Linked DNA regions of Homo sapiens. The protein of the gene in region 2 purifies or fractionates together with the protein of the main gene of each other region. This does not show direct contact. Each region holds a gene or a part of one and is shown on either strand. Other genes may lie near its edges.

Region 1 (3,500 bases), about 67 Mb from region 2:
TCTTGCTCTGTCGTTTATACTGAAATGAAGTACAGTGGATCATAGCTCACTGCAGCCTCCAACTCCTGGGCCCAAGCAATCCTCCCACCTCAGCCTCCCGAGTAGCTAGGCATACAGACTACAGGCATGTGCCACCATGCCCAGATAATTTAAAAAAAAACCTTTTTGTAGAAACAAGGTCTTCCTATGTCACCCAGGCTGGAATGCAATGGCACAATCATAGCTCACTGCAGCCTTGAACTGCTGGCCTCAAGTGATCCTCCCGAACCTCCCAATCCTCTGCCTCGGCCTCCCAAAGTGCTGCAATTACAGGCATGAGCCACCATGCCCAGACCCAAGGACTATTTAGACATGTAAAAGTAATGACCGGCCGGGTGTGGTGGTTCACATCTGTAATCCCAATACTTTGGGAGGCTGAGGCAGAAGGATCACTTGAGGCCAGGAGTTTGAGACCAGCCTGAGATACATAGTAAGACCCTGTCTCTACAAAAAATAAAAAATTAGCCATACATGGTGGCATTTGCCTGTAGTCCCAGCTACTCAGGAGGCTGAGGTGGATTATTGTTTGATCCCAGGAGTTTGAGGTTGCAGTGAGCTATGATCACACCACTGCACTCTAGCCTGGGCAACAGAGCAAGACTCTGTCTCAAAAAAAAAAAAAAGTAATAAACAATATGAAATATTACCAATATGAAAAAAAGAACAAGAACATATTAAGCAAACTAAGCGAAAATTAGAGATCAAAATTATAACAGGTGTTTAAGAACAAAATAGATGAATTAAATATCAGAACAGATACATTTGGGAGAAAATTAGCTAATTGGTATTCCAGTTTGAGGAAATCTCCCAGAATGCAGGCAGTGACAAAGAAATAATATAAAAAGCTTCTAGAATAAAACAGAAGAATATACAAAGGAACATGAATTGACAGATTTTTCAACAGCAACATCATATGCAAAAAGAAAATAGAAGAGTATTTTCAAGACTGAAGGAAATTAAACCTAGGCTTTTCCATAAAACTGTCCTTCAGACATAAAGGCATCATCCTCAGTTACACAGAATCTCAAAAGTTTTGCCTTAAAAACCCTTTAAAGGGCTGGGTGCGGTGGCTCATAGCTGTAATCCCAGCACTTTGGGAGGCTGAGGCAGGCGGATCACCTGAGGTTGGGATTTTGAGACCAGCCTGACCAACATGGAGAAACCCCGTCTCTACTAAAAATACAAAATTAGCCAGGCACGGTGGTGCATGCCTGTAATCCCAGCTACTCGGGAGGCTGAGGCAAGAGAATCACTTGAACCCAGGAGGCAGAGGTTGCGGTGAGCCAAGACCGTGCCATTGCACTCCAACCTGGGCAACAAGAGCGAAACTCCGTCTCAAAAAACAAAAACAAAACCCCTTTAAAGACCATTTTGGTTGAGGTATTTAAATAAAAGAACAGAAAAATCCAAAAGATGCTAAAAAGGCTGGGCATAGTGGCTCACGCCTGTAATCCCAGTGCTTTGGGAGGCCAAGGTGAAAGAATCGCTTGAGCTCAGGAGTTTGAGACAAACCTGGGCAACATAGCAGGAACTCATCTCTACAAAAAAATAAAACAATTAGCTGGGTGTGGTGGCATGTGCCTGTGGTCCTAGCTACTTAGGAGGAGGCTGAGGCAGAGGATTGTTTGAGCCCAGGAGTTTCAAGGCTATAGTGAGCTATGACAGTGCCATTGCAGCACCCCAGCCTGGATGAGAGTGAGATCCTGTCTCAAAGGAGACACTACAAGAGATATATGAAGAAAAAGTGATCAAACACCGTGATATATTTATTATTATCTTTAAAAAATAAAATCAATACTATCCCACTCTAGGTAATAGTGACACAATGAGGACAGAGTGAAGCAAATTCCTTTCTTATTGGGGAGAAGATTTGGATATTAAATATATATATATTTTTGTGACGGAGTCTCACTCTGTCGCCCAGGCTGGAGTGCAGTGGTGCGATCTTGGCTCACTGCAACCTCCACCTCCCAGGTTCAAGCAATTCTCCTGCCTCAGCCTCCTGAGTAGGCGGACTATAGGCGCCCACCACCATGCCTGGCTAATTTTTTCTATTTTTGGTAGAGACAGGGTTTCACCATGTTAGCCCAGATGGTCTGGATCTCCTGACCTCGTGATCCGCCCGCCTTGGCCTCCCAAAGTGTTGGGATGACAGGTGTGAGCCACCACGCCCAGCACTGGATATTAAGTATTTTAATTTTTTTAAAAAAGGATTGAAATTAAACAGTGAAATATTTCAAATGTTTAGATTGAGACTCTGAAATATTTAATATTTCAATTTTAATTTGAAATAGTTCAGAAAGAGATCTAAGTAAAATAATAACAATACATGTAAACCCAGCAAAATCCATACGTAGGCTATTTCAAAAAACCTACCTAAAACTTAAGGACATACAAAGGTTATAAAAGATGAAAAAGAAATACCATGTGATTATAAACTAAAGAGAGCTGGTGTCATTATATGAGCATCAGATAAAATGGACTTTAAGGAACTTATTTTTGGGCGGAAAGATATACACTGAAATAGTGAAAGCTGGTGGCCAATGAAAGAAAGTGGTGGGGTCGGGCAGTGGGAGAGGAAGCGTAGGGTTTTGATGGCTGTCCAGGTCCTGTGTCTAGTGCCTTGGAAAGCCACCCTAGTTGCTGTCTTTCAGTTCCCTAAAATACCCAGATATTCTTCCAATCATTTCTCTTTTTTAAAACTCTGGTTGAAGTGGAGACTTCTGTTACTTGTAGCCAAAAGGGTTTTACTACAACAGTGGCCTCTGTAGGTGGTTAGTAAATATCAACTAAAGACAGGCCTGAACACAGTAAGTAGTAGACTCACCATCATCAGGTTTCTTCACAAATTTGACTCCCAGTTCTTCAAACCTTTTACAAGCACTGTATACATCAGGAACAGCAATTCCAATATGACCTTACGTGATACCCCCCGAAAAAAGCAGAGAGAAGGAAGAAATAATTATAACAGGGTGTCCAAGTACCACAAGTAGATTCCAAAACTTGTTTATTTCAAAACATAAGGCACTTGGGAACAGACTTAGGTAGGTTCAAAATCTATAATACATTAAAGAACAAATATAGATCTAATGGGCTGGGTATAAGTAGTTAATTAGTTGCCTTGAATTATAAATTATTTAAAATTAATCAATATCAGCTCATATACAGTCTAATCAGTTAAGAATAATCGACACCAAAAAACAGTAATCATTTACTAATACTTAATAGGTTTGTGGTTGGCATTGACTATAGCAGCCAGCTGAAGCCTGCAATACTGTCATCTTGATTGAGAGACTGGAGATCAAGGCAGAAGTGTATGTGCTAGCAGAAACTGGGATTAGTATTAACTACAGCTTTTTTAAAAAAAAAAGTCTACTGGAAATTAATTCTGAGACTTAAAAGTAAATCATGGTGAGATGGTAAGTGTAATTTTAGATCGAGACTCTGAAATTAAACAACTC
Region 2 (3,500 bases):
TGCTCTGGGTCTTCCAAGGTCAAAGAAGGTCAAAGTCAAGGTGTTGGCTGGTTGGACTCTTACGGGGAAACTCTGGAAAAAACCTACTTGCAGTCTCGGGATGTTGGCAGAATTTAGTTTTGTGCGGCTGTGGGACTTAGGTCCTGTTTCCTTGATGGCTATTGGTTGGGGGTTGCTCTCAGGTTCTAGAGGTCCCCCTTCCTCCATTGTCAAAACCAGCAATGGCAGGCTGAATCCTTTACAAGCTTCCAATTTCTCTGACCTCCCTTTCTGCTGCATCCCTGACTCCAGCCAGAGAATGTGCTCAGCCTTTAAGGGTTTATGTGATTTGGGACCCCTCAAGAGATAATCCAAAGAGCAGCAGATGAATATCCTGCTCCCTGACAGCAAGCAGTATCTAGGTAAGTGTTTGAATAACCAGGGTAGGAATCTTGGGAGGCCATCTGTAGAATTCTGCCCTACCACATTTTTTGTAGTTTGTTGCTTTTGTTCAAGACCATATTAAATCAAGAAAGACAAGTAGGTAGTCCCATCTCCTCTCCAGCAGATTATATGCAAATGCAAGACCCTGACAGTGACAAAGCTCAAGCACTAATCCTGCTGTGACTGTGTTCAACTTTATATCAAACCACTAACAACATATATATGTCAATAAAACCTTACTTGACAAGCCATTCAAAGTGTTGTTTGCTGTCCGAGCACCCATAATCAGTGGTCCAAGCATGGCCGATGGTATATTTATGAAACTTCAGCATGTCCATTACTCCAACTTGGGCAATAACACAACCAAAGAGGTCAGGTCTCTGATTTGCACAAGCAGCTAAAAGCCCAACGTAGAAAGAAAAGGGAGGCAGTCTATCATTAAACATCTACATAAACAAGGCAAGGCAATACTTACTTACATGCTTCCAGAGCCCTGGTTGCATTTATCCAGAGCACAAGAGGAAACCATCAGAAATCACCTGCCCAATAGCCCCAAAGCTCCCCACCCACTCTGAGATCTGTCAGAGGGGGTGGGGATTCTCATCAGTAATGGAGCTTTACTCCCCAAAGTGAATCTTGAAAAGCTTGAGGACTTTCTGGAAACCCTGTATCCCCTCCTCCCATCCCCACTTGCTTTCACAGTGATGAGGGAGATTAAGGGACTTGTTCAAGATCTCAGGACCTGCCCAAGGCAAAATAAATAGGGTCTCTTCGTATGTCATTTATCAGATACCCAAATACAAATGGTACAAATGGGTTTTGCTCTCCTTATACCACTTTGTGGTCCTATCCACAAAGTTAAGTCAAGAGCTGCCTACAGATGGTGTATCTGAAAACCCCAAGAGGGCTAACTAGTAAGTGCAATGAATAAAATCCAGTACTCACCCACTAAGAGGCCTCCATTTGAACCTCCATTAATAGTCAGCCTCTTGGGAGATGTGTAACCTTCCTTGATCAGATACTCAGCAGCACACTGAAAGTCATCAAAGCAGTTTTGTTTGTTGGCCAAGATACCACCTACAGTGTGCCAAAGTGGAAGATAGTTAATTAACAAAACATAAAAATAAGTTTAATCTAATGGGAATTCAAATGATAGAGCACGGTTTCAAATACTGATTAACTTAAAAACCATGGGTTAACACTGCATTTAAAAAAAAGCCTCAATTTAAGTTCTGTTATGCACTGTGGAAATATATCATCAATACCACAATGCTAATCCATATGGTGGATCTGTATTTTTCTAAAAGCCTCTAGAACTTAAACGGGAAATGCCCCAAAGGGAACAGATGGTCGGTTATGAGAGATGTATGATAATGAAAGGATAGAAGCATGGCATCACAAGGAACCTGTATTTTGGGAAGCTGAACTTACAAATATAAAGCAAGACCTGCAGCAGTGTTTAGTCCTCTAGGTTGCACCCAGCACCCGAGCCGGAGCTGGCTGTGGGAGTGCTCGTGTCTCCCCTCCCCGCGAAGACGGAGGTGGAAGCGCTCTGCAGAGGCACGCTTCCCACCCCACCTCTGCAGGAGTCTGACATGGTCGGTGATGGGGAGAAAGAAATTCCCCAGTCTTGCCCTCGGTTATTAATGGAAAGAACAAAAGGAATTGGGTGGTGAGGTAGCGTTGCGGCAGAGCATCACATTATGTTTTCTCAATTCCAGAATGAAAGATCTTCAACGTTTCCCCAGAGAATCTGGGCTTTATCATCTGCAAATCGTTCCAGTGTATTAAACCAAACAAATTACTTGGAGAAACATTTACAGGGCCATGAAATATCTATAAGTAAAGGCCAAAAGTCAAAAGCATGTCCTCAAAGGAACAGATGTCTGAAATAACGGCCTTTGAAATGAACAAAGAGCAGACACAGATCTAATTAGATACTTGAGATTAACCACTTCTGCTGAAATTTAATTAAAGATAAAGCAGTCCTACTGAAATGTTTTTCATATCAAAACAAATGTTATTAAGATTTCAGTAAGAAATTACCAGTGAATTTAGAACAGCTAGGATTACTTAGTTACTAGGAATAACAATATTTTGGGTATATGACTACATTTTAAAAAGAGCATTAAATTTTAAAGTCAATTAACAGAATGGAATTTAGATTTACCAGTGTATCATATCCTAGGCTATAACTGGAAAAGGTCTATTTCTGGTCCTTTCATCATGGCCTAAATTTTGAGGAAGTTTATAAATCAGTCTAAACATAGTCTACTGTTAGCCTTAGTCAATCTTGAACCTGCCTAATCCCAAGACTGGAAAATAACTTGGTTCTAACTAATAAAAAATGAGAGAGCAGACTAGGACCAAATTACTCTTCCCTCTCAGAGCATGGTGGACATCTGATGACCAGAGGGGTTTTCTGGAGAATAATCCAGTTATTTCAGGAGAGGATCCCAGGATCAGGGGACCATGAGTAGGGGGTATGGTGCATAAACTACATACAATTTAAATAGGAAATCAGGTGAGTCAAGGGGTTCAGAATTAGCATACATATTTGGGATCAAACATATGGTATACAGAAATTTTATCCTCTTATCACTCATCTTTTAATATCAGTTTCACAGTATGATTTTAGTGTAAACTCTAATATCAGCTCAAAATTATGCAATGAATTCTTTGCAGTTTCAAAGACAGTCACAATCAGTAGTTTCTGGGGATGATAACTGGCAACGATGGACCAGATGGCCGGCCAGGGGCACTCACTTTCACTAAGGTGCACTTGAGGAGTCTGCTGTCAGCCCCTGGGGTGCATGCTGGATGCCCGGGGGTCATTTCTAAGCCTTTCCTGCATATGGTACCTAACAGGTACTTAATGGAAATCTCTTTACAACAGGTTTACCCTCATGTTCGCTGATTTGATTTGATGCAAAAAAAATCCAGAGCCTCAGGCCTCTGGTTTGGGATGGCATGGGAAACAGAAGAGAGGTACAGATATCTTAAGGGTGGTCTCTGATGCTGAGGAGACCCCTCTCACCTGGAGCTGCTGACCAGCCCCAAGCACTGGGGTCCTGGTA
Region 3 (3,500 bases), on a different chromosome or scaffold from region 2:
TTTTGTATTTTTAGTAGAGACAGGGTTTCGCCATGTTGGCCAGGCTGGTCTTGAACTCCTGACCTCAGGTGATCTGCCTGCCTTGGCCTCTCAAAGTGCTGGGATTACAGCTGTGAGCCAACACGCCCAGCTATGTAATTCAACTTAGAATTTTATAGTTCTTGAAGAATATTTTTCAACTGAAGACTTGATAAATTACAATGTAATCTAGATCAACATTGTAGAAGGTAGAGGAAAAAGTTCCCAAACTAACAGAAGCCTAAATTTTAATGACACGGCTACAATCTCATTGTGTGACAACAGAGGAATCTATTAATCAACCTGACCTTCAAAATTATCTCTAAAATGAAAGGTTGAACTGATACGTAAAGGTCTATCCAGTTCTCTATGCTCTCACATAGAAACTTGCATGGTATTACAACTTTTTACTTCCTTTGGAGTAAGGTAGAAGAACTTGTAGGTAGAAGCACTTGTCAAATGAATGGAAACACTCCATTCACTTTGTAAAAAGTACTAACTAATGTCTGTGGTACAGTAGATGCTCATGGCTCATAGGCCTAACTGGTTCTGCTTCTACTAGTTGTATAATACGCTTACCAAGAATCAGCCACGTTGGTTCCCCAAACTGTTTTTGTGCTTGTTCTTTTACGTGTTTGGTTCAACAATACAAAATTGATGATAATCAACCACATGACAATTCATATGGTGATTCCAAATGGTTCAATTCAATACATAACACTTATAAATAAACTTCAAAAATATATAATTATAAAATAACACAATAAGGGAATTATGGATTCTATGAAAACCAAGTTGAATGTTTGAGAAGGCTTGATAAATCCAAGTCACACACACAAAAACACTGTCAAGTTAGGTGTAACTCTACAACTACATGAAAATCTGCAAGGATTCTGTGCTCAGACTACTTCTCGTATGTGTTAAGATAATGTAAGAACTCTAATTAGCACTCGCTATCCCCCAAACCTTGCCATACATATATATATTCACTGTTTTATGTATGTATATAAAGTTAGTGAATACATACATATTCACATATTTTAAGTTGAAGTGTTTAAGACCAAGATTGGCAAGCTTTTTCTGTAAAAGGCCACACAAATATTTTACACTTTGCAGGCCAAACATGGTCTCTGTTGTATATTCTTAGTTGTTTTATTTTTTCCAACTATTTAAAAATTTAAGAATCATTTTTGGCTGGGCGCGGTGGGTCACGCCTGTAATCCCAGCACTTTGGGAGGCCGAGGCGGACGGATCACAAGGTCAGGAGATCGAGACCATCCTGGCTAGCACGGTGAAACCCCGTCTCTACTAAAAATACAAAAAATTAGCCGGGCGTGGTGGCGGGCACCTGTAGTCCCAGCTACTCGGGAGGCTGAGGCAGGAGAATGGCGTGAACCTGGGAGGTGGAGCTTGCAGTGAGCCAAGATCGCGCCACTGCACTCTAGCCTCCTGGGCAACAGAGCAAGACTCTGTCTCAAAAAAAAAAAAAAAAAAAAAAAAAGAAAGAAAAAAAGAATCATTTTTATTTTTCGCTTTCAGGACATACACAAACAGATTATGACTAGAGTTTCCCAATACCCAGTTTAAGATATATATATATACACGTGTATATATACGCGTATATATATACACATATATATGTTTTACCAACTCTTATTTTGATAAACTGACCAATTATTGATCCCAATCATATCAGATTAAGAAAGCCTCTCCCCTATTACAAAATATGCATCTAATTCTCAGTTAATTGAAATAACTTCTTCCCACCCCAATAAAAGTTTTAAGACTAGGAATAGTCTTTCATTGAATTTATAAAAATAGTACATTTTTTTCATGTGTTATATGAAGTTTCTTAACCTTTCCATGTGAGATTATGTAGCTTCATTTTTAACTTCAAAACCAAGACATTTAAGTCGAAATAGGTAAACACTGTCTAGTCGGTTTTGTAACATTTATAATCATAGTAAGACTAAAAATATACAATGCCCCAAAAGATAAGACCAAAGTAAACTCTTTCAGAAATTAACTTTGAATTTTGACTACAAAGCTCTGTATCATTTTGATTTTTAAAAAATCTCAAGTAGGCAAAATTAAACAGATTAAAAACACTGAATGGTAACATAAAAATATTATAAGAATAAAACATGGCAAGATAATAAAAGGAAGTTTAGTTAGACCACAAACTATGGAAGGTCATGATGGGTGTAGCTTATACCTAATTCCACAGGCAATTTGATATGGTGTAGTTTTCCAAGATTCCGCATCAACCTGTTTACCATCAGGCAAAGTGACTTTAATTGGCTTGCTATCTTTTTCTGCCTTTTCTGCCAGAATGGAATCATGTTCTGCTTTTAGTATATTATACATCTCAAGACGTGTGTAAATATATTCAGGCCAAGGATTCAACTGCAAGACAACAAACAAATCAGGAAATAAATGATCAGTAAATATTGCTTTCCTATTTAGAAATGGGAAAGAAATAATAAAAACAATACAGAAACCCAGGACTATTGATTCAATGTGGTAAATAAACACTGCCAAAATCACCCGGCATTACCTCAATTTGGTTCTAAATGAAGGTAAAAGAAGGAATTAAATGCCCTATTCTTATGCTGAATCGACAATTACCATTTTGCTACTATTTACAGCAAGTGGTCTTTTCTCTTTTAAGATGTCTTCTTAGGATCTTTTCTAACTAAATTATTTTACAAATAGAGCTATAAACAATACTGGAAATAAAAACAATAAACTGGCTTTTCTATTTTGTTTCATTCATGTCCAGGTGATGGTCTGTGCAGCGGGTCAGCCTATATGTCCACTCACAACCAATCACAAATTTCTTTGACTTAAGGTCTCCCCTTCAAGGAAAGTATTTACTGAATTCAAAGATGCCATGATCAGCTTGGAGTATGTAATTAGCAACTATATAAAACAACACACTACTACTTTCTATAGCAGATAAAATTAACAAAAATATTCTATATAAAACACCCACTTAGGTTTCTAGAGGTTTGGCAAAGAAAGAAAAAGAGACAGCAATCAGAGAGCTGACTTCTTCTACTGTCACTCTATAATCTATGGAACATTTCAAAAAGGCAGTGAATCTGTGGTAACAAAACAGTCAAACTAACATCTACAGCATTCATCATCTTCAAATTACATGAACATTAACACTTCATACAAAAGTGAAGAGGAGATTGCTTAATTTTGCCATGACTTTCTATCTTCAAATGAATTTCAATCTATCAGATATAAAATGACTTACTGCAATACAGATTTTAACATTTATTCAATGTTGATAATGCTACCAACGTCTCCATACATATGTCTCCATATATATCAACATACCACAATTTGAAAGGAGTACAAGGGAATATCTAATCCTTAAGAAACTGACTGGGGCAGGGCATGGTGGTTCATTCCTGTAATCCCAGCACTTAGGGAGGCCAAGGCAGATGGATCACTTGAGGCCAGGAGTTCGA
Region 4 (3,500 bases), on a different chromosome or scaffold from region 2:
AACCAAAACCTTTATGATAACCCACAAGGCCATACAGGATCTGACCCATCTCCTACTCCTCTCCCCTCACTCCCTCCACCACAACCACCCCAGCCTCCTGGCTGCCCCTTGAGCATACCAGCATTACCTGGCACACTCCCACCTCAGGGCCTTTGCACTGGCCATTCCCTCTGCCTGAAACACTCTTTCCCCAGAGAGTTACAAGGCTCTCTCTCTCTCTCTCCTCCTTTAAATCTTTGCTCAGACATCACCTTCTCAATGCGGCCTACCTTGGCACCACCTCTTAAAACTGCAACTTGCCCTATATCTTCCTCTCCTTTACCCTGGGCCACCTTTTCTTTTTCTCATGACATTTGTCACTTACTAACACACTACAGAATTTACAATCTTTTTTTTTTTTGAGACAGAGTCTCGCTCTGTCACCCAGGCTGGAGTGCAGTGGCACAATCTCGTCTCACTGCAACCTCTGCCTCTGGGGTTCGAGCGACTCTCCTGCCTCAGCCTCCCGAGTAGCTGGGACTACAAGCACATGCCACCATGCCCAGCTAATTTTTTGTATTTTTAGTAGAGACGGGTTTTCACCATGTTAGCCAGATGGTCTCAATCTCCTGACTTCATGATCCGCCCACCTCGGCCTCCCAAAGTGCTGGGATTACAGGAGTGAGCCACCACACCCAGCCAGAAGTTACAGTCTTTACTGTTGCTTTCTGTCTCCCTTTGCTATGATGTAAACTCTAGTAGAGCAAAGATCTGTGTCTGTTTTGGTCACTGATATATCACTAGTACCTGACCAATAGTAGGCTCTCAATAAACATGTCAACACATAGTGCTTGACACATAGTAGGCTCTCAATAAACACATGTTCCTGAATCTTACGATGAGAACTAGAATTCAAAATAACTGATTTACAAGACTGTCTAATAAAGTACTATGGAACAGAGAACACTCTGAGTCAGTACTTGGCTATGTACGCACCCTGGGTCTATGAGATTGTCAATTCTTTCTCTGGGCAATAGTTTTCCTCTTGATATGTGAAGTGCTCGGGCTTTCTCACCACCTCCTATGATAGAAATGTGATTAGATTAGATTAGATTGACACGATAAAAAGGTCTCAATGCCAGAAAAACATAATACTTAATCCAAAATATAGCACTTTTTAAAAGTTCAACATATCCTCTGAGAAAAGGCTAATAATCATTCACTCAACTTACAAGTTGCCAATTTTCTGAAGTAAATGTAAAAACTGGTATTAAAAAAAAATCAATCTATCCCTGATTTTAGAGTATATCCTAGAGTCTATGTTCTGAATTCACTAGTAGTTACATAAATTACAGAGTATTTTCTCTGCAGCTCACATATTGCAAATAATGCCTCATCTCCACCACATTTATTAAATACATGCTATGATAGATCTGGAAAATTCCTATCTTCATTTGTACCAGGTAAAAATAAAATTTTAGAAATTACTTCCATGATAAGTGCAGTAAATTTACCTAAAGATGACATTAGTGATCCGTAACTTTTTAGGCTTGCAACTGGGTGAGTTGAACACTTTAGCAATTTAAAAGTCCCCTTCCTTGACTCAGAGATTGTCTTCAGTGCTTCTCAACATTGCTCACATCATGACAGACAAAGAAAATTATAACTGAAGAGCCCACTGGAGTATTCTTGGGAATATCTATAACCCACTCTCGGCAAACCAAGGTAATGGAGCAAGAACAGAAGTATCAAATTGTACCTTTAATAATTAAAACATTAGTTTATTTTTATTGGTGTCCAAGAATTTCATCTTAATATAGTCTTTGTCTAATGAAATGTTCAGCTATTTCAGAAAGCTATTTCTTTGTTTATTTAGGCAAGAAAATAATCTCAAACGATCTTCCAAGTAGGACCTTTTTTTTTTTTTTTTTTGAGACAAGATCTTACTCTGTCACCCAGGCTGGAGTGCAGTGGTGCCAGCATGGCTCACTACAGCCTTGAACTCCTAAATTCAAGTGATCCTCTCACCTCAGGCTTCCCAGCAGCTGGGACTACAGGCATGTGCCACCACTCCAGCTAAATTTTTGTGATGAGGTCTCACTCTGTTGCCCAGGCTGGTTTCAAACACCTGGCTTCATGCAATTCTCCTGCCTTGACCTCCCAAAGTGACAGGTGGGTCATGCCTGTAATCCCAGCACTTTGGGAGGCTGAGGTGGGTGGATCACTTGAGGCCAGGAGTTTGAGACCAGCCTGGACAACATGGTGAAACCCCATCTCTACTAAAAATATGAAAAATTAGCTGGGTGTGGTGGTGCATGCCTGTAGTCCCAGCTATTCGGGAGGCTGAGGCGGGAGAATCGCTTGAACCCGGGGGGCCAAGGTTGTAGTGAACTGAGATCGCGCCACTACACCCCAGCCTGAGTGACAGAGCAAGACTCCGTCTCAGTAAAAAAAAAAAAAAAGAGAGAGACTTAAGACAACATCACTCTTTAGCAATTCTGTCTAGAGTGGGGCCTTACAATTTGGAGCAGCTGGTGAATTCTGGTTTTATTAGGAAGAACCAGAAAGAGGGTTATCCTTGATGCAGGCTCACAGAGCACATAATTAAGCTCCCCTGACATTTAATTCTTGGCAAAGCTGTGACAGCCAAGTTTGTCCTTTCCCCCTTCTCCCTACCTCCTTCCCCAGGGAGTCCGGCTCAGTCCTCTACCCTCCTGTGGCCACCAGCCTGCACCACGGTTCCTCAGCATCCACCATCCCCAGCAGGCACCTGATGCCACAGGACTCCTCAACCCTCCATTGAGTCAAACCCACCTCTTTTTTTTTTTTTTTTGAGACGGAATTTCGCTCTGTTACCCAGGCTAGAGTGCAATGGCACCATCTTGGCTCACTGCAACCTCCGCCTCCCAGGTTCAAACAATTCTCCTGCCTCAGCCTCCCGAGTAGGTGGGATTACAAGCATGCGCCACCACACCCAGCTAATTTTGTATTTTTAGTAGAGACAGGGTTTCACCATGTTGCTCAGTCTGGTCTCGAACTCCTGACTTCATGTGATCCGCCCACCTCGGCCTCCCAAAGTGCTGGGATTACAGGCGTGAGCCACTGTGCCTGGCCCCAAAACCCACCATCTTAATGTCTAAGGGGGACAGTGAGTTCACCAAATCAAACTCTCAAAATGGGCATAACAATTGAGTTATCACCCCTAACAAAACACTTTCATTTCAGCAAGAGTTTGAATTCTTTTTCTGGAGACAACACCTTGATCTAAAATGGCTTCAAAAGTATGAATTCCATAGCTGCGTACAGGGGCACAGGTACAGTCTCAGCTACTTGGGAGGCTGAGGCAAGAAGATCACTTGAGCTCCCGACTTCGAGTCCAGCCCGAGCAACAGAGTGAGGAGACCCTGTCTCTAAATAAACTAGTAAATAAGCAATTCTAGACCATACTTTCCAAATCCAGTCTTCTTCACTATTTTTATACTCCTGAGATCCAGTATTTAAACTACTCTAACCTAAATGTA
Region 5 (3,500 bases), on a different chromosome or scaffold from region 2:
AGGAGACACCAGCAGCCACCTCCTTACCCGTCAAGGCCAAGGTGTGGTTCCGCCCACATGCTGCAGACACAATCACTTCGTGGCTAAGACCCTCGATGAGTCTAGGGGCTTCTACTCTCTTGGTGTCACCATGTCCCAGCTGCCCCTTCTCATTTCGACCTGCAGATCACATGAGAGAAAGTAGAAAAGAGAGAGGGTGGTCCAGGCGGCACCACCAGGAGAAGGCGAGTACAAACACACTCTCAAATGATGCCCATCTGTCTCTGGAAGGTACCCTCCAAATTCCCAACAGCCAAGATCCAGAGCAAAGAACGCCCCGGCCCTCTGCCCGCTGGAATGGCGCCTGCTGCAGCTCCCCGGACCTCCTTCCCTGGGGCAGCAGCGGGACCACCCGTGCACACCTCCCACGTCTCTGCTACAAAGGGAAATGAGAGGCTCAGTGTGGTAGGGACACCATGCACAGGCGGGCATGCTCGCAGAAACACGCCGTTCCCACTTAGAGTGCCTGCAAGACAACCACCCCGTCCCTACCCTCTGAGATGTATTTTAAGACAGCACCCCATTTTGACACCTGGCTCACCAGAGTTTAATCACTTTGGTGCTCTGGGCATCCACTGAGGACCATTTGGTGTCTGCCCAATATTTCTCTTCCTTTTTCTACCCTGTAAATGGTGCTCACATAACAGTGCCAATCCCACCCCTAGGGATCGCCCCTCAAGGACTCTCAGCCACAGGAACCCTGGTGACAAAGCACAGATCCACCCTCAACACAACACGCCCAGCCCCACCTCCAGGACTGCTGCAGGTGCGACCAAGGCCCTGTATCTGTGAATTCCAGCGGAAGGCAGGCCTGAGGGCCAACCCCTACCCCCAAGTCCTCTGCAGAACCAAATTCAACTCCAAACAGACGTGGAAGTTGGGTGGGCCAAAAGGAGGGCTGGGAGCCCCTACACCGCATCTAGGTTTCAACACAAACTACCAAGTTCCAAAACAAAAATTCAACCGGCCACTCTCGGATCCCTCCCGATAAGAGAAAAACCACACATGTAACCTGACGTGGGGAAACTGACGGAGATCTTACAGTGGTGAGAAGTCAGGGCAATTCTAGGGGGTTTTGCAACCTTCTCCAGCAATGAACTTTTCACCCTTAGGTTGTGATAAAGGCAGACAGCAGAGCCATTAAGATGAGTTCCAGCTGTCCTGGAGAAGGCTTGCAGGAGCAGCCTCTGACTACAGAAGGAATTGCGACGAAGGGAAACCAGCCTCTGACTCGCTCTAATTAAAGAACGGCGGGCTGAAGGGCCAGCACTGGCACTCGAGCAGGAGAGGCAGATACACCAGCTTCCAATGGGAGCTGCCCAAGTTCATGTGAAAGGCATGTGAATACAGAGCAACAAGTGCAAGTCTCAGTGGACTGAGATGCGGCAGGACAGGGTGAGCGGGCCACAGATGGAGACCCCACATGAGCAATGCGTCAGCCACCCTCCCGTGGTACTCTACTCACACCAGACGCCGCCCCCTGCCTTCTAGAGTGGCGAGCAGTGGGCCTGTGACACCTTCCAACCCTGTCCTCACCAACTGCACTGTCTGCTCGGGGATCACACGTCTTGATGGCGGGACATACATTGTCCCTGCCCACAGGGTCAGAACTGAGGGCGCTTTCAGAGCCACCACGCAAGTGAAGCTCAGCGAGAGATCAGAACTGAGGTATTTTAAGTTTGGAACACTGACATAAAAGGCTGTGTTCAGTGTTGGAACACAAAGTAGGAGGGGTGCTCTGGGGGAAGGGACACACATCTATGCCAACCGGGAGAAAACAAAAACTGTGGCAATGTCAGCATGTCATCAAGAGACTATAAAGTATAAATTTGGGCCAGACACACTTTAGCTTTTTTCAACAGAATTACAAAATTAGCCATGTGCAGGGAAGACAACAGATGTTAATATATTTGGACTTTGGTACAGCAGCTCATGAAATCACAAAAAACGGTTCAAACAGCCCAAAATAAAAATGCAGTCATATGGACTAAAAGCTAGCCAGAGGACCAGCGACAAAGGGTGGGGACAAACGCCAATATGCCCCGCTGGAGGCAGAGGCCGGGAGTCACCAAAAGGGCTGGGGATAAAATGAGCCTTAGCCCATACCCTATGATTGGAATGATCTGGAAGAGGACACGGGCAGGAATGGGCCGGCCGGCTGCAGAGGACAGTGCCGTGGACAGAGGCTAACAGAAGAACTGGAACCCATCCCGAGTGCCCAGGTGAGGAAAAACAGAAGGGAAAGCCGAACAACTCCAAAAAAGCAAACTGAAGTATCTGGGGAAATATCCTAAGAAGCAGACAACACGGACAGTGAGCTGCCAAGCCTGCAGACCAGACTTGGGCAGACCTCAGACACGAGGGCCATGGCGGCAGGGACGCAGCATCCTATGACATGAGGCGGGAGGTAGAAAAGCCAGTGGCATTTCAAGTGGCAGCAACAGAGGTCTCATGTCATATCGTGCCTCAAAGAGGAAGGAAACTGTCTGCTGGAAGGACAGCCTGCCTAACACACTCACACACCTCAGTATCAGAAAAGATCAAGCTTCGGGCAGAAGATTCAGGAAAATGTTCCTTGTGTAAACACAAGGAATCAAAGAAGTAGGGGCTGCGTATGGGCAAAAAATGTCAGGGGGGAAGGGGATCTGCATGTAGCGTGTAGACAAGAGACGAGCTGGGAATTAGGAAAAAAGACATGGGCTGTGAACGAAGGAGCCCAGCCTTATAAGACGCGAGTCTCTTTTCCAGGCAAACAGAAGAACGTGCTGTGTGGGGACAGCTGGTGACAGTGGTCCCCAGTGCCCAGCACCCGCACGGTACTCACCCCAGCTCCACAGCTTCCCTTCCGTGGTGATGAGGAGGCTGTGTGCAGCACACGAGCCCGAGACCACTGTCCGCACCCGGACCCCCGCCAGGCACCCATATCTGTGGGGCCCCCACAAATTCTGACCGAGATTGCGGTAAGCAGCTGCAGAGAGAATGAGAATGCAGATCAGACACCTGGGGTGGTGGGGTGACCTCCAAAATGTCACTGGCCACCAAGCAGCCACTTCCCGAGGGTACCAGGGACAGGTGTTCCTCGGGTGCCACCCTGCCTTGGCTGTTGGGAGGCTGCACAAGGATCGGGTTTTCACTTCGAATCTCTGCGATGCCTCTGAAGGCCCAAAAATCAAAATACCCAGAAGCTGGCACAGGCCTGGCGTCACCTGCCACCTTTACACCCATTCGGCCCCAGCCCCCTCTCTGGGTCCCACCTCTCACAGGGCTCAGCCCCACGTGTTCTGCCATTGAGCACGCCCACCCGCAAGTGCCCGGGACCTGGTGCGAGGTCTGTCCAGGAGGCAGGAGTGCTGGCTTTCCACAGCCGTCAGCTGAGGAAGAGGCTGACCCAGGAAACCCCGCTCACCCTGACAGTAACCTACCCCTCCTCCTCACTCCCTGCCGCCTGCCCCTCCTTTCCC
Region 6 (3,500 bases), on a different chromosome or scaffold from region 2:
ACATTTTGCCAGTGTATAGGTAAGGAAGCTGAACCTCAGGCAATCCCATGGCCTGGATTTGAACCTGTGTCTCTGACCACTGAGCCCTGTGCTGTTTGTGTTAGACCTTGCTGTAGATAGGGACCTGGGGACCAGGAGGGAGGGCCTCCCTGAGTGTGGGGCTGCATGAGTTGAGCTCACCTTTTGGTTTCTTTCCTGGGAATGCTGAGCCCACATGTTTTTTTCACTCAGCTCTCTTTAAGAACTGTGACCTGATGTGGAAGCAGAGCATATGGACATCGACCATCTCCAGCCATCTGGCTACCAAGCATCTCAAGGAAGGAGGCCTCCTGACCTTGGCTGGCGCAAAGGCTGCCCTGGATGGGACTCCTGGTAAGCCTTTATTTCCCTATCTGTGGAGTGGGGTTGCTTACCTTGCTTGCTGGGGCTGCTGGGCACTTTCATGGGATGAGGACTGTTAAAGCCTTTACCCTCTAAGCTGCTTAACAGATAGATGGATTTTGTCTTCTTTTGGGCCTGAATCATTTTAGGGAGAAGAGTTCTGATCTTTTGTTTGCCTGTCCTTATGTTTATGGTGGTGGTAAGGAACGCTATGATCTGGTAACCCCCATTTAGTTTATTTATCTGTGATCTACACTGGAATGAATGGTTTAGTGGATATTAATTAATTAATAAACATGGATTATTATTATCACATTGAATCCATGTGTTCCAGGGAAGCAGCTTAGCAGCTGGAAATAGCATAAGTTTAAAATGAGAGAGGTTCATTTGGCCAGCACAGTGGCTCACACGTGTAATCCCAGCACTTTTGGGAGGCTGAAGCAGGAGGATTGCTTGAGCCCAGGAGTTCAAGACCAGCCTGGGCAACATAGTGAGACCCTATCTCTACATTAGAAAACAAAAAGAGAGTGAGAGGGTTGGGGGTGGATTCTTTATCCTAGATGTGTGACCCTGAACCAGTTCTTCAGTCTCTGACCAGATGTCTACTGTAGTTTCCTTAATTGTAAAATAGTGACAGTGACATCTAACTTGAAGAGTACTGTAAAACTGTAGAGGTGTAGCTATGTAGAAAGTGCACATGGTAGGCACCCATAAATGGCAAGTCTTACTGTTATTCACAATAAATGGTAGGTCTTATAGTCACTCTTTTCATTTCACATATATTCTCACTTTAATCTCATCAATATTATCTTTTTCAGTTTACAGGTTAGGAAACTAAAACTTGGAGAGTTAAGTAACTTGTCTGGGTTTGTGCAGGAAGTAAGTTGCAGACTTACTTGAACCAAAACCCTAATCATCTACCAACTGTGTATTTTTTCCATTATGTCATTTCTTTTGCATTTTTTATGACCTGTATTAGTTTGTTTGGGTAGCCACAGACTGGGTGGCCTAAACAACAGAGATTTATTTTCTCATAACTCTGGAGGCTAAAAGTCTGGAGATCAAGGTATCTGCAGGGCTGGCTCCTTCTGAATCCTCTTTTTTTATAGATGGCTGCCTTCTCCTTTTGTCTGCATGTGGTCTTCCCTCTGTGTGTCTGTCCTCGTTTCCTCCTCTTCTAAGGAAACCAGGCATATTGGACTAGGGCCCATCTCAATGGGCTCATTTTAACTTTGTTGCCTCTTTAAAGATCTTCGAATACAGTCCCATTCTGAGGTACTGGGAATTAGGACTTCAATATACGAATGTTGGGGGGATCTATTTCAGCCCATAACACTCCCTGTGGGATAGGGCTAAAGGAATTTAAGCAGGGGTAGAAAGGGGCAGCATAGGGAGGCAGAAAGTGTCTACCTCAACTACCTAAGTTGAACTCTTCTTTTAAAAAAATGGGAGCTTTTGGCCGGGTGCAGTGGCTCACACCTGTAATCCCAGAACTTTGGGAGGCCAAGGCGGGTGGATCATGAGGTGGAGATTGAGACCACCCTGGCTAACACGATGAAACCCTGTCCCTACTAAAAATACAAAAAATTAGCCAGGCGTGATGGTGGCTGAAGCAGGAGAATGGCGTGAACCCAGGAGGTGGAGCTTGCAGTGAGCCGAGATCGCGCCACTGCACTCCAGCCTGGGCAACAGAGCAAGACTCCCTCTCAAAAGAAAAAAAAAAAAGGTGGGGGGAGCTCTTTTTGACTCTCTTGTAAGTGGTAGAGACCTTGGGACCCTTCTCAGTTGTTTATTTTTTTAGAGACAGGGTCTCACCCAGGCTGGAATGTAGTGGTATGATCTAGCTCACTGTAGCTTGGAACTCCTGGGCTCAAGCAATCCTTTGCCTCGGCCTCCTGAGTAGCTGGGACTGCAGACACACACTGCCATGCCTGGCTAATTTTTGTATTTTTTGTAGAAGCAGGGTCTCGCTATGATGCCCAGGCTGGTCTCAAATTCCTGGCTTCAGGTGATGCTCCTGCCTTGGCCTCCCGGAGCACTGAGACTACTGGCATGAGCCACTACGCCAGGCCCCTTCTCAATTTTAATGTAACTCACTGAACTGTGAGGCTGTGACTACTAGCAATACCTTCCCTCTCATTTTCTTCTTCCATTTCTTAGAGCATGTGATGTTACAAGTCCATGGCTATAGCAATCATTAAAGCTGTGTAAATGTTAGCTGTCTGGTTGGTTGAGATCTGATTTTTATTTAAGATGACACGGAACAGAGGCAGTAGAAAGTAAACAGAGAAATGAGTCTTAGCTTGACATTTTAAAAAACAAAACCCTAGGACCAAAAGACTGATTTTTCTAAATGACAGAAGAGTCTCCTACTTTCCTTTGGTTTGCAGGTATCCTTTGATTACATTTTGGGTAGTGGTTAAGACTGCAGGCTCTGGAACTGTGCACGTTGGACTTCTCTTAAGGCTCTGCCACTTACTGTGACACGTTCGGCAAGTTACTTCGCCTTTCTGAGTCTGCGTTTTGTCATCTGTAAAATAAGATAAAATAGTGTCTCCTTTATATATATGGTGGTTGTACCTTGTAAATGTCTCAATGGATCTAAATGGATGAGAAAGGTATTACAGAGAGTCAATAGTAAGTGTGAGCCATTATTATTATTTACTCCAGGCTTATTTCTGCCCAGCTGTTCTGCCTCAGATGTTAATGAATTTGTTCATCTTTAACCTCTTAAGTTAGATTTTGTTAAGCTATTAATAATTTGAGTCATGAGATCTTTTAAGTATGCTGCAGACCTCAGAAAAATCTGGGGAAATAGATCTACAATTTGAAAGTAAATGATGAATCAGGCTTAGTAGTCCCTCAAACTCAAGAAGATTTGTTTGCACATCAGAAGTTTTTCACTTGGAAGGATACTGAGAAAACCTCACCCTCCTATTTCCAAGTTTGTATTTCTAGACTGTCTTCTGTAGGACAAACAGTATTAAAATGGTGTTCACTTTTGTTTACCATTAAAGGATCTGTGCTGTGATTGGAAATCAGTTTTGGGGGACCACACTGATCATTCAGTAATTTGGAAGTGTTGACCTTCTTAGTGAAATGTCTTTTTTTTCATATCT
Region 7 (3,500 bases), on a different chromosome or scaffold from region 2:
TTAGCTGGGCGTGGTGGCACACGCCTGTAGTCCCAGCTACTCGGGAGGCTGAGGCAGGAGAATGGTGTGAACCCGGGAGGCAGAGCTTGTAGTGAGCCGAGATCACGCCACTGCACTCCAGCCTGGGTGACAGAGACTCGTCTCAAAAAAAAAAAAGAGTTGTTACTGTCTTGAGGGCAGGCCACTTATATCTAATAGAATTAAGAAAAGTTGGGCCGGGCGCAGCGGTTGGCTCATGCTTGTAATCCCAGCACTTTGGGAGGCTGAGGAGGGCAGATCACGAGGTCAGGAGAACGAAACCATCCTGGCTAACACGGTGAAACCCCTACTAAAAATACAAAAAATTAGCTGGGCGTGGTGGCGGGCGCCTGTAATCCCAGCTATTTGGGAGGCTGAGACAGGAGAATCTCTTGAACCCGGGAGGCGGAGGTTGCAGTGAGCCGAGATCGCACCACTGCACTCCAGACTGGGCGACAGAGCGAGACTTAGTCTCAAAAAAAAAAAAAAGAAGTTGGCCAGCCATGGTGGCTCACACCTGTAATCCCAGCACTTTAGGAGGCTGAGGTGGGCAGATCATGAGGTCAGGAGTTCAAGACCAACCTGGCCAGTATGATGAAACCCTGTCTTTACTAAAAAATACAAAAAGTAGGCCAGGCTCGGTGGCTCACGCCTGTAATCCCAGCACTTTGGGAGGCCGAGATGGGCGGATCATAAGGTCGGGAGTTCGAGACCAGCCTGGCCAACATGGTAAAACCCCGTCTCTACTAAAGATACAAAAAATTAGCCGGGCATGGTGGCGCGTGCCTGTAATCCCAGCTACTTGGGAGGCTGAGGCAGGAGAATTGCTTGAACGCAGGAGTTGGAGGTTGCAGTGAGCCAAGATTGCACCATTGCACTCCAACCTGGGTGACAGGGTGGGACTCCATCTCAAAAAAAAAAAAAAAAAAAATTAGCTGAACGTGGTGGTGCACGCCTGTAGTCCCAGCTCCTTGGGAGGCTGAGGCAGGAGAATTGTTTGAACCCAGGAGGCAGAGGTTACAGTGAGCCAAGATCATGCAACTGTACTCCAGCCTGGGCAACAGAGTGAGACTCCATCTCAGAAACAAAAAAGAGAAAGAAAAGTTATTTTCATACCAACACTAGACAAACACTACATTGAGGAGATGAATTACCATCCATTCTCCAAAAAATGTTATTTTAGTAAATTATTCTGAGTACTTTATGTTGAAGAATAATGGGAGATATTTTTTTCTCCTTGGAAAGGATTTATTTTTCTTTTTTTGATGCAAGGAGATGGAGTTTTTACTCAATCTAATGGAAAGGAATTTTATCTACTCAAGATTCTCTATTTGGGAGAGTTTTTGGTAAATGCTGTTGAAACAAGATTTAAGTAATATTTAATTTAATATTTATTTAGAAACTGATTATTGATGAGAAGAAGTATTACTTATTTGGGAGAAACCCTGATTTGTGTGACTTTACCATTGACCACCAGTCTTGCTCTCGGGTCCATGCTGCACTTGTCTACCACAAGCATCTGAAGAGAGTTTTCCTGATAGATCTCAACAGTAGTAAGTAACTCCCTCCCAATTCACATGTTACCTTTAGGCAATATGAAAATACTCTTTGGGTTCTTTAGTTTGGAAATTACGTTTTATGGAAAAAGTTAATGTTTGGTTTTTAAATCCACCCTTCTCTATTTCTGTGATTTTTCTATTTTCCTGAGATAATTGCTAACTGACTGTGGAGAGAAGAGGGGTTTGGGGAGCACTGTCCTGGAGGAATCAATAAGCAAACATAAGCTGGATGTGGGGGCTCACATCTGTAGCTACTCAGGAAGCTGAGGCGGGAGGATCACTTGAGCCCAGGAGTTCAAGACTGCAGTGAGCTATGATCACACCACTGCACTCCAGTCCGGGTGACAGAACAAGACCCCATCTCTTAAAAACAAACAACCAAAAAAGAGCTGGGTGCAGTGGCTCACTCCTGTAATCCCAGCACTTTGGGAGGCCGAGGTGGGCGAATCATTTGAGGCCAGGAGTTTGAGACCAGCCTGGCCAATATGGTGAAACCTCGCCTCTACCAAAAATACAAAAATTAGCTGGGTGTGGCGGCGGGTGCCTGTAATTCCAGCTTCTTGGGAGGCTGAGGCAGGAGAACCGCTTGAACCCAGGAGTGGAAGGATTCAGTGAGCTGAGATGGTGCCACTGCACTCTAGCCTGGGCAACACAGCAAGATTCTGTCTCAAAAAAATAAAGAAAAGGAAAAAGGCACCCAGGAACTAGGGACCATGTGTGTTCAAGTGTTTATAGGACCATAATAAATTGTGATTCTGTTTCAGCAGAAGCCATGATTAGCTCCATTGATGTAATAGAGCAGCAACATAGGGCATTTTAAGAATGATTGTCTTGAGGAAAATTTCATTATTCTGGTTCTTTATCCCATCTCTGTTTTGCTTTGACTGTGAATAATACCAGTTTTAATTCCATAAGCAAGGCCAGGCATGGTGACTCACACCTGTAATCCCAGCACTTTGGGAGGCCGATGTCAGTGAATCTCTCAAGCCCAGGAGTTCAAGACCAGCATGAGCAATGTAATGAGACCCGCGTCTCTACAAAAAAATACAAAAAGTAGCCCTGTATTGTGGAGTGCGCTATGGTCTCAGCTGCTTGGGAGGCTTAAGTGGGAGGATCGTTTGAGCCCAGGAGGTGGAGGTTGCAGCGAGCCATTATCGCATGACTGTACTCCAGTCTGGGTGACGAAGCAAGCCCTACCTCAAAAAAATAAAAATAAAATACTCCATAAGTATTAATTAATTGAAGTATCCATAAGCATACACCAATTAATAAGAGTTTAAACTTCGCCTAAGATAATCCACAGAAATGCAATTGAGATTTAACTGCATGGGGCCCTGAAGTTTGTTCATTTTGCCCGTGTGTGAATACAGTGTAAAATGTAAAGGGTCCTGCTTCCTGGGCATATCATGTTGGACTCCACCACTCTCCTACTACCATACGCAGAAACATACACTCACACATCACCCTAATCTGCTTATATAAGGGTCTTGGAGAGCTTTGTCTCGCAAATACTTATCTTTTCTCTCCCATTTTATAACATGCAGAATGCCAACAGGGGAAAATATTCAGAATCTATAGTAGGATTTTGGCTTGCTTTGGCATTGATATTGCACCTGTTTCAGCCAAGCTCTTTCTTGTCCTGGGGAAAACCTAAGCATAACTGCCACCAGGCCAGCAATTTCTATATTCTTTTGACTTGGAGCTGGAGAGGGAAAACTACAGTGATGTCCAGCTCCTGCTTTGGGAGGCGTGGCTTCTGCTGGGTTGGAGCCATTCTTATTTGACCCAGAATGGAGCCAAGCCTGTATGGCAGCAGAGAACGGTCAGTGGTATTTGTTATCTGGGGGAACAACAGGTCTGAGGATATAAGAAACCCACCGAGGAGATTCAAGGCTCAGTGAGGGAGTTTCCTTCTCACTGTAA

Evidence for each region.
Region 1: the proteins of PREP (region 2) and GLO1 fractionate together in Homo sapiens (co-fractionation; one large-scale study listed by BioGRID). This does not show direct contact.
Region 3: the proteins of PREP (region 2) and TARS1 fractionate together in Homo sapiens (co-fractionation; one large-scale study listed by BioGRID). This does not show direct contact.
Region 4: the proteins of PREP (region 2) and MCCC2 fractionate together in Homo sapiens (co-fractionation; one large-scale study listed by BioGRID). This does not show direct contact.
Region 5: the proteins of PREP (region 2) and RCC2 fractionate together in Homo sapiens (co-fractionation; one large-scale study listed by BioGRID). This does not show direct contact.
Region 6: the proteins of PREP (region 2) and QDPR fractionate together in Homo sapiens (co-fractionation; one large-scale study listed by BioGRID). This does not show direct contact.
Region 7: the proteins of PREP (region 2) and PPP1R8 fractionate together in Homo sapiens (co-fractionation; one large-scale study listed by BioGRID). This does not show direct contact.

What each region holds. Positions count from the first base shown.
Region 1 is NC_000006.12:38,679,146-38,682,645, forward strand, and holds part of GLO1 (lactoylglutathione lyase), read right to left. Parts: intron 2,957-3,500; coding exon 2,867-2,956; intron 1-2,866. UniProt on the Homo sapiens protein: Catalyzes the conversion of hemimercaptal, formed from methylglyoxal and glutathione, to S-lactoylglutathione. Involved in the regulation of TNF-induced transcriptional activity of NF-kappa-B. Required for normal osteoclastogenesis.
Region 2 is NC_000006.12:105,281,083-105,284,582, forward strand, and holds part of PREP (prolyl endopeptidase), read right to left. Parts: intron 1,501-3,500; coding exon 1,369-1,500; intron 821-1,368; coding exon 664-820; exon of another isoform or gene 1-663. UniProt on the Homo sapiens protein: Cleaves peptide bonds on the C-terminal side of prolyl residues within peptides that are up to approximately 30 amino acids long.
Region 3 is NC_000005.10:33,447,465-33,450,964, reverse strand, and holds part of TARS1 (threonine--tRNA ligase 1, cytoplasmic), read right to left. Parts: intron 2,425-3,500; coding exon 2,234-2,424; intron 1-2,233. UniProt on the Homo sapiens protein: Catalyzes the attachment of threonine to tRNA(Thr) in a two-step reaction: threonine is first activated by ATP to form Thr-AMP and then transferred to the acceptor end of tRNA(Thr).
Region 4 is NC_000005.10:71,593,840-71,597,339, reverse strand, and holds part of MCCC2 (methylcrotonoyl-CoA carboxylase beta chain, mitochondrial isoform 1 precursor), read right to left. Parts: intron 1,061-3,500; coding exon 976-1,060; intron 1-975. UniProt on the Homo sapiens protein: Carboxyltransferase subunit of the 3-methylcrotonyl-CoA carboxylase, an enzyme that catalyzes the conversion of 3-methylcrotonyl-CoA to 3-methylglutaconyl-CoA, a critical step for leucine and isovaleric acid catabolism.
Region 5 is NC_000001.11:17,422,678-17,426,177, forward strand, and holds part of RCC2 (protein RCC2), read right to left. Parts: intron 3,008-3,500; coding exon 2,864-3,007; intron 160-2,863; coding exon 28-159; intron 1-27. UniProt on the Homo sapiens protein: Multifunctional protein that may affect its functions by regulating the activity of small GTPases, such as RAC1 and RALA. Required for normal progress through the cell cycle, both during interphase and during mitosis.
Region 6 is NC_000004.12:17,498,591-17,502,090, reverse strand, and holds part of QDPR (dihydropteridine reductase), read left to right. Parts: intron 1-231; coding exon 232-372; intron 373-3,500. UniProt on the Homo sapiens protein: Catalyzes the conversion of quinonoid dihydrobiopterin into tetrahydrobiopterin.
Region 7 is NC_000001.11:27,837,282-27,840,781, forward strand, and holds part of PPP1R8 (nuclear inhibitor of protein phosphatase 1), read left to right. Parts: intron 1-1,417; coding exon 1,418-1,571; intron 1,572-3,500. UniProt on the Homo sapiens protein: Inhibitor subunit of the major nuclear protein phosphatase-1 (PP-1). It has RNA-binding activity but does not cleave RNA and may target PP-1 to RNA-associated substrates. May also be involved in pre-mRNA splicing.